Linked DNA regions of Homo sapiens. The protein of the gene in region 2 interacts with the protein of the main gene of each other region in a pairwise test. Each region holds a gene or a part of one and is shown on either strand. Other genes may lie near its edges.

Evidence for each region. The genes of interacting proteins can lie anywhere in the genome.
Region 1: the proteins of TMEM120B (region 2) and SLC10A1 interact in binary tests that used the Homo sapiens proteins (3 or more experiments, as listed by UniProt).

Annotation. Positions count from the first base shown.
Region 1 is NC_000014.9:69,787,242-69,790,741, reverse strand, and holds part of SLC10A1 (hepatic sodium/bile acid cotransporter), read left to right. Parts: intron 1-3,500. UniProt on the Homo sapiens protein: As a major transporter of conjugated bile salts from plasma into the hepatocyte, it plays a key role in the enterohepatic circulation of bile salts necessary for the solubilization and absorption of dietary fat and fat-soluble vitamins.
Region 2 is NC_000012.12:121,743,752-121,747,251, forward strand, and holds part of TMEM120B (transmembrane protein 120B), read left to right. Parts: intron 1-3,500. UniProt on the Homo sapiens protein: Necessary for efficient adipogenesis. Does not show ion channel activity.

The sequences.
Region 1 (3,500 bases), on a different chromosome or scaffold from region 2:
TAATGACTATCTTTGCTTTATTCCTCTTGTTAAAGAAAATCCCTCTATTTACCATTAAGTTTAACGTTTAATATACTTTTTCTAATAGATTTCCTTTCAAGTTAAGGAATTTTCATTCCGTTGCTAGTGTACTAAATTTTTATTATGTAAGAACATTAAATTTTGTTGACTTTTCTATAGCTACAAAATTGTACCATTTCTTTAATAATATAGTAATATGTATTAATAGATTATCTAATGTTAAATCATTCTTACTCATCTTGTTCATTGTATTTTTTAAAACACTTATTTGCTAATATTTTATTATTTTTGTTTCTATGTTCATAAATAAGAGTGGTCCCCAATTTTCTTTTCTCGTAATATCATTCTCCAGCTTTCGTTCCAAGATCATATTAACTTTATACAATAAATTAGGGCATGTTTCCCCTTTTTATATTATCTGGACAGATTTGCATAATATTGCAACAATCTGCACTTTGCATGTTTAGTAGAACACTACCGTAAGACAGTATAAATCATGTAGGGTTCTAGAAGATAGGTTTTGAACTGCTTATTAAATGTCTTAAATGATTCTAAGTTGAATCAGGTTTTCGGCTTCATATTGACTTGGTTTTGTAGGTTATATTTCCCATGAAATTGTCCATTTAAGTTAAAAATGAAAGTATGAAAATGTCCTTAATGACTTTTTAAAATCTTCATTTTCTCTGTAGTTATGTTCCCTTTTTCACACTAACCTCATCAATTTGTGCCATCTCTCTTTTCCCTGGTCTGCCTTGCCAGAGGTGCCTATTTAATTGGCCTTTAAAAAAAAAAAGAAAAAAAAAAAACCCTATTTTTGGTTTTACTGATTCTAACAATTTACAAAACTTAAAAAATTTCTTCCTTTTCTTTTTATTGGGTTTTTCTCATTCTAACCTCTTAAGGTGCTTAACTCATTAATTTTTAATCTTCTTTTTCAATATAAATATGTTAGGCTATAAATTGCCCTTTAATAATTGCTTTATTTGCTCCCTGCATGGTTTTTAATTACTATTTATTGAGATATAATTCACATACCATAAAATCCATTCTTTAAATTGTACGATGCCTTGGTTTTTAGCATAATTCCAAGCCTGTGAACCTATCACCATTATCTAATTTCAGAACATTTTCAATACCCCAAAAAGGAACTCCATCCCATTTAGCAGGAGTCCCCATTTCTCTCTCCTGCTCCAACCCTTGACAACCACTAATCTTTCTGTCTCTATGGATTTCACATAAATGGAAGCATTCAATATGTGACCTTTTGTATCTATACTTCTTTCACTTAGCATATTTTCAAGGTTCATTCATGTGATAGCATGTCACAATACTTCATTTGTTTTTGTAATTGAATAATATCCCATTGTATGGATATAATACATTTTGCTCATCCATTCATTCAGCTGATGGACACATGGGTTGTTTCTACTTGTTCCCTAGTATGAATAATGTCTATGGAAGCTCACAGGCAAGTTTTTGTGTGAACATGCTTTCTGTTCCCTTGGGATATATACCTAAGAGTAGAATTGCTGGGTTATATGGTGACTCTGTGTTTAAATTTTCTAGAAACTGCCAAACTATTTTCCAAAGCACCATTTTACTTCCCACCACCAGTGTATGAGGATTCCTAATTTTCCATATACCCTCCAACACTTGTTATTGTCCAGCTTTTTAATTATAGCCATGCTAGTAGATATAAAGTGGTATCTCAAAGTGGTTTTGATTTGCATTTTCCTAATAAGTAATGATGTTGAGCATCTTTTCATGTGCTCATTAGCCATTTGTATATCTTCTTTGGGAAAATATCTCATTCAAATCCTTGGCCCATTTTTTACTTGTTTTTTATTATTGCATTATAAGAGTTCTTCATATATTGGCCGGGCGCGGTGGCTCACGCCTGTAATCCCAGCACTTTGGGAGGCCCAGGCGGGTGGATCACGAGGTCAGGAGATCGAGACTATCCTGGCTAACACGGTGAAACCCCATCTCTACTAAAAATACAAAAAAAATTAGCCGGGCGTGGTGGCAGGCGCCTGTAGTCCCAGCTACTCGGGAGGCTGAGACAGAAGAATAGCGTGAACCCAGGAGGCGGAGCTTGCAGTGAGCCGAGACTGCGCCACTGCACTCCAGCCTGGGCGACAGAGCAAGACTCCATCTCAAAAAAAAAAAAAAAGAGTTCTTCATATATATTCTGAATATTAGACCCTTATCAGATATATGACTTGCAAATATTTCCTCCCATTCTCTTGTTGGCTTTTCACTTTCTTGATGGTGTCCTTTGAATCACAAGTTTTTAATATTAATGAAGTCTGACTTGCCTTTTTCTTTGGCTGTTCGTGCTTTAGATGTCTAAGAAACCATTGCCTAATCCAAAGTCCCCTCTCCATGTTTTTTAAATATGTATTTTATTATTTTTATATTCTAAATACTGTTTCCACCATGATTTCATATTTGATGATATAATTAGAAAGTTCCCCTCCCCTCATCCCATGATCCTTTTATTGGTTGCTCAGTTTCAATGCTCCTCCCATCCCAGGTCTAATACCTCAATTCTGGTCCCTTCCTTGGGCATTAAAGCCTCCACAGTGCCAAGACTAACACCCCACTCCCCTCCAGAACCCCTCTATGAAGCTTCAGCTTGAGTTCCCCCACTACTTTGCATTTGTTTCTTGTCCGTGGGCACCTTTTTTTTTAGTGGAGTGGCGCTAACATAGCTCACTGTAACCTCAACCTTCTGGGCTCAAGCCATCCTCCTGCCTCAGCCTCCCAAGTAGCTGGGACTCCTGGTGCACACCACCACACCTGGCTAATTTTTGTGTGTGGTTTTTGGTTTGTTTGTTCATTTGTTTGTGTGTAGAGACAGGGGTCTTACTTTGTTGCCCAGGCTGGTCTCAAACTCCTGGCTTCAAGCAATCCTCCCTCCTCGGCCTCCCTAAATGCTGGAATTATAGGCATGAGCCACTATGCCACACTTAAATTGAGTGTTAATTTCTTACAAGCTCAAGTGTGTATTTAAGTGTTCACGGGGGTGGGGGAGTTCCTATTACCTAGTTCACAATTTTCTTTGAGGGACTCTTCTCACCTCTAACAGCTCTTATCCTTATGACATGCCTACCTATTGTTCTTGATGGCTACGCTCTGGAACCTTTGATATAGGCTGCTCTTCATGCATATTTAAGCCATATTCCATCTTTATAGAAATAATGAAAGAAGTGTAGATGGAGGGTAGGGCTGTGGGGAGGAGGAGGGACACACTGAGTGTGGTTTTCCTAAGATCTTGCCAAGCCCTCACCTCCCAACCATCTTCCCACTGGAATAAAAGTCAGAGCCATATATTGTTAATGTAAATGTCCATAAATCTAAGGAGATGCCCTATCAGCTTCCTTCTCAGTTGACCTTTCTGGAGGGCCTCTCCCTAGACAGGGTCCTGGGACTAACATATATAAGATTCCAAATGGAAAAGGAAATTGGACAAGTAG
Region 2 (3,500 bases):
GTGCAGCTGTAGCCCGGGGGCTGCCCTGGTTCTGAGGGACAGAAGTCCAACTCAAAACAGGCTGAAGCAGAGAATGGAAATCTCAGTGGAAAAAGACAGGACTGGGAGTTGCTTCAGGCATCACTGGATCCAGGAGTCAAAGGGTGTTTTGGGGCATGTATTTTTCCCTCTAAATTCTGCCTTCCTCTGGATTGGTGTCACTCTCAGGGTGACTGTCCCCTTCACCAGCAGTGCCAGGCTTATATTCTCCAGCCTTGCTTCCTGCCGGCTGTGCCACCCTGGCTGAAGGAGAGTGTCTCTCTTTTTTTTTTTTTTTTTTTCTTGAAATGGAGTCTTTCACTCTGTTGCCCAGGCTGGAGTGCCATGGCATGATTTCGGCTCACTGCAACCTCTGTCTCCTGGGTTCAAGCGATTCTCCTGCCTCAGCCTCCTGAGTAGCTGTGATTACAGGCATGAGCCACTGTGCCTGGCCGAGAGTTTCTCGTTCCCAGTACTTCAGCCGACATTCTGGGTTCAGTCCTCATTGGCTGGGATTGGTTGAATGCCCATTTGTGAACCAATCACTGAGAAGCTGCTTGGGCAGCGCCATGCCGTGTGCTAAGTCTGTGGCCCTGGGCGGTGGAGGGATGGCCACATGGGTGATGGGAGAAGAAGATAAGTAGTTTCCCGGGTGAAAGTTGGGTGCTGTTATAGGAAGGTGCCCTGCCGGACAAGTAAGCAGGCAGCGTCCTTTTGTGGGTGTGGGGTGCCCTCCCCACTGGGGTTGCTGGTGTAGTGGCCACTAGGCTGCCATCCCTGGTGGAGATGTGCTTGAGCTCATAGCTTAGTTCAGTTCCCAAGGCCTGGATCGTGTTCATTTCCTGACACTCATGGTCTCCAGGTCTGGGAAGTCCCCTCCTGCCTGGTATGTGAAGGGGCCCAGTGGATGCCGTGACCCCATTGTCAGGCAGGGAAACTGAGGCTCCAAGTGACTTGTCCCAGGTCACTTAGCTGGGCCTCCATTTTAGAATCTGGGACTCCTGGTCAACTCTTTCCTTGTGGACAATTTTGGAGGAAGGTCCTGATTATAGCTCTCAGTGTGGCTGGCCATTTTGGAAATGGAGGCCCGCAACTAAGGGGTAGAGAGTGTGGATGGCCCTGTGCAAACACGTCACCAGATGTGGCTTTGGAAAAACACATCTTGGTAATGGCAGGGCTCAGAGTCTAGAGTTTCTTCAGATTCTCAGTGATTGCTTCACAGATGGGCACATGGCGAACCCCAGCACTATTGATGGGTCTTTGTGGGGGCCGTGCAGTGCACTGTGGGATAGTGAGTAGCATCCCTGGCCTCTGCCCACTGATGCCAGTAGCACTCCTGCCCCAGGTGTGTCCACCAAGATCTCTCCAGGCATTGCCAGCTGTCCTCAGTTGAGAAGTGCTGGGTTAGAAGGTTGACCCGTGAGTTAGGGTCTTAGACCAAGGACCCCTGTCATTCTGAGATGTGTCTGCTGACTTGTTTTCTGGTTTTGAGAGTTCCGTGTTACCAAAGAATAACAGACCATGATTGGTCGACTGCTTATGCTTTCAGGTGCCTTTTTGTCTGTCTCTTGGTCATCTGTAGGTTATTCCTTTATTTCTATTTTTTAAAATTATTTTCATTCATTCATTCATTCATTCAGAGATGAAGTCTCGCTCTGTTGCCCAGGCTGGGGTGCAGTGGTGCAATCTCGGCTCACTGCAACCTCTGCCTCCCGGGTTCAAGCAATTCTTCCTGTCTCAGCCTCCCGAGTAGCTGGGATTACAGGTGCCCGCCACCACGCCCAGCTAATTTTTGTACTTTTACTAGAGACAGGGTTTCACCATGTTGGCCAGGCTGGTCTCAAATTCCTGACCTTAAGTGATCATCCTGCCTCGGCCTCCCAAAGTGCTGAGATTACAGGTGTGAGCCACCATGCCTGGCCTTACTTTTTTTGAGATAGTGTCTTGCTCTGTCACCCAGGCTGGAGTGCAGTGGCGCAATCACGGCTCACCACAGCCTTGATCTCCTGGGCTCAAGCGATCCTCCCACCTTAGCCTCATGAATACTAGGACTACATGCATGTACCACCATGCTTGGTTGTTGTTTTTTGTTATTGTTGTTGTTGTTTTTGAGATGGAGTTTTGCTCTGTCACCCAGGCTGGAATGCAGTGGTGCTATCTTGGCTCACTGAACCTCTGCCTCCCGGGTTCAAGTGATTCTCCTGCCTCAGCCTCCCAAGTAGCTGGGATTATAGGGGCCTGCCACCACACCCAGCTGATTTTTATATTTTCAGTAGAGACAGGGTTTTGCCATTTTGGCCAGGCTGGTCTCGAACTCCTGACTTCAGGTGATCTGCCCACTTCAGTTTCCCAAAGTGCTGGGATTACAGGCATGAGCCACCACACCCAGCCCCTGGTTGTTTTCTTAAACCGCCCCCCCACTTTTTTTTTTTTTTGAGACAGAGTTTCGCTCTTGTTGCCCAGGCTGGAGTGCAATGGTGCGATCTTGGCTCACTGCAACCTCTGCCTCCCGGGTTCAAGCGATTCTCCTGCCTCAGCCTCCCGAGTAGCTGGGATTACAGGCATGCACCACCATGCCCAGCTAATTTTGTATTTTTAGTAGAGACGGGGTTTCTCCATATTGGTCATGCTGGTCTTGAACTCCCAACCTCAGGTGATCGGCCCACCTCAGCCTCCCAACGTATTGGGATTACAGGCTTGAGCCACTGCACCCGGCCTTGGTTGTTTTCTTTAATTAATTTTTTATAGAGACGGGGTCTTGCTATGTTAGTCAGGCTGGTCTCAAACTCATGGCCTCAAGTGATCCTCCTGCCCTGGCCTCCCAAAGTGCTGGGATCATAGGCGTATGTGCTGGGACTATAACATCATGCCTGCTAGCTATTTCTTTAGAAAAATGAGAAGAAGGCCGGGCGTGGTGGCTCACGCCGGTAATCCCAACACTTTGGGAGGCCGAGGCAGGCAGATCATGAGGTCAGGAGATCGAGACCATCCTGGCTAACATGGTGAAACCCCATCTCTTCTAAAAATACAAAAAAAAAATTAGCTGGGCGTGGTGGCAGGCACCTGTAATCCCAGCTACTTGGGAGGCTGAGGCAGGAGAATGGCGTGAACCCAGGAGGCGGAGCTTGCAGCGAGCCGAGATGGCGCCACTGCACTCCAGCCTGGGCGACAGAGCAAGACTCTGTCTCAAAAAAAAAAAGAAAAGAAAAGAAAAATGAGAAGAAAAATAGTATTGTCAGTAATTATCCCTTGAGCTCATACTATCAAGTATTATTCTAGATGCTCTATGCTGTACTTACTCATTTAATCCTCACCAGGCTATTGTCTGTGAGGTAGGCTTGAGGTTATCCCGGCTTTTCAGGTATGGAAAATAAGGCAGAGAGGTTTAAGGACTTTCTGAAAGTCACAAGACTACCTGGGAGGCAGCATCACTCCTCCAACCCCGAGAGTTGAGATGGGGAACTGCGGTTGCGAGAGGCACT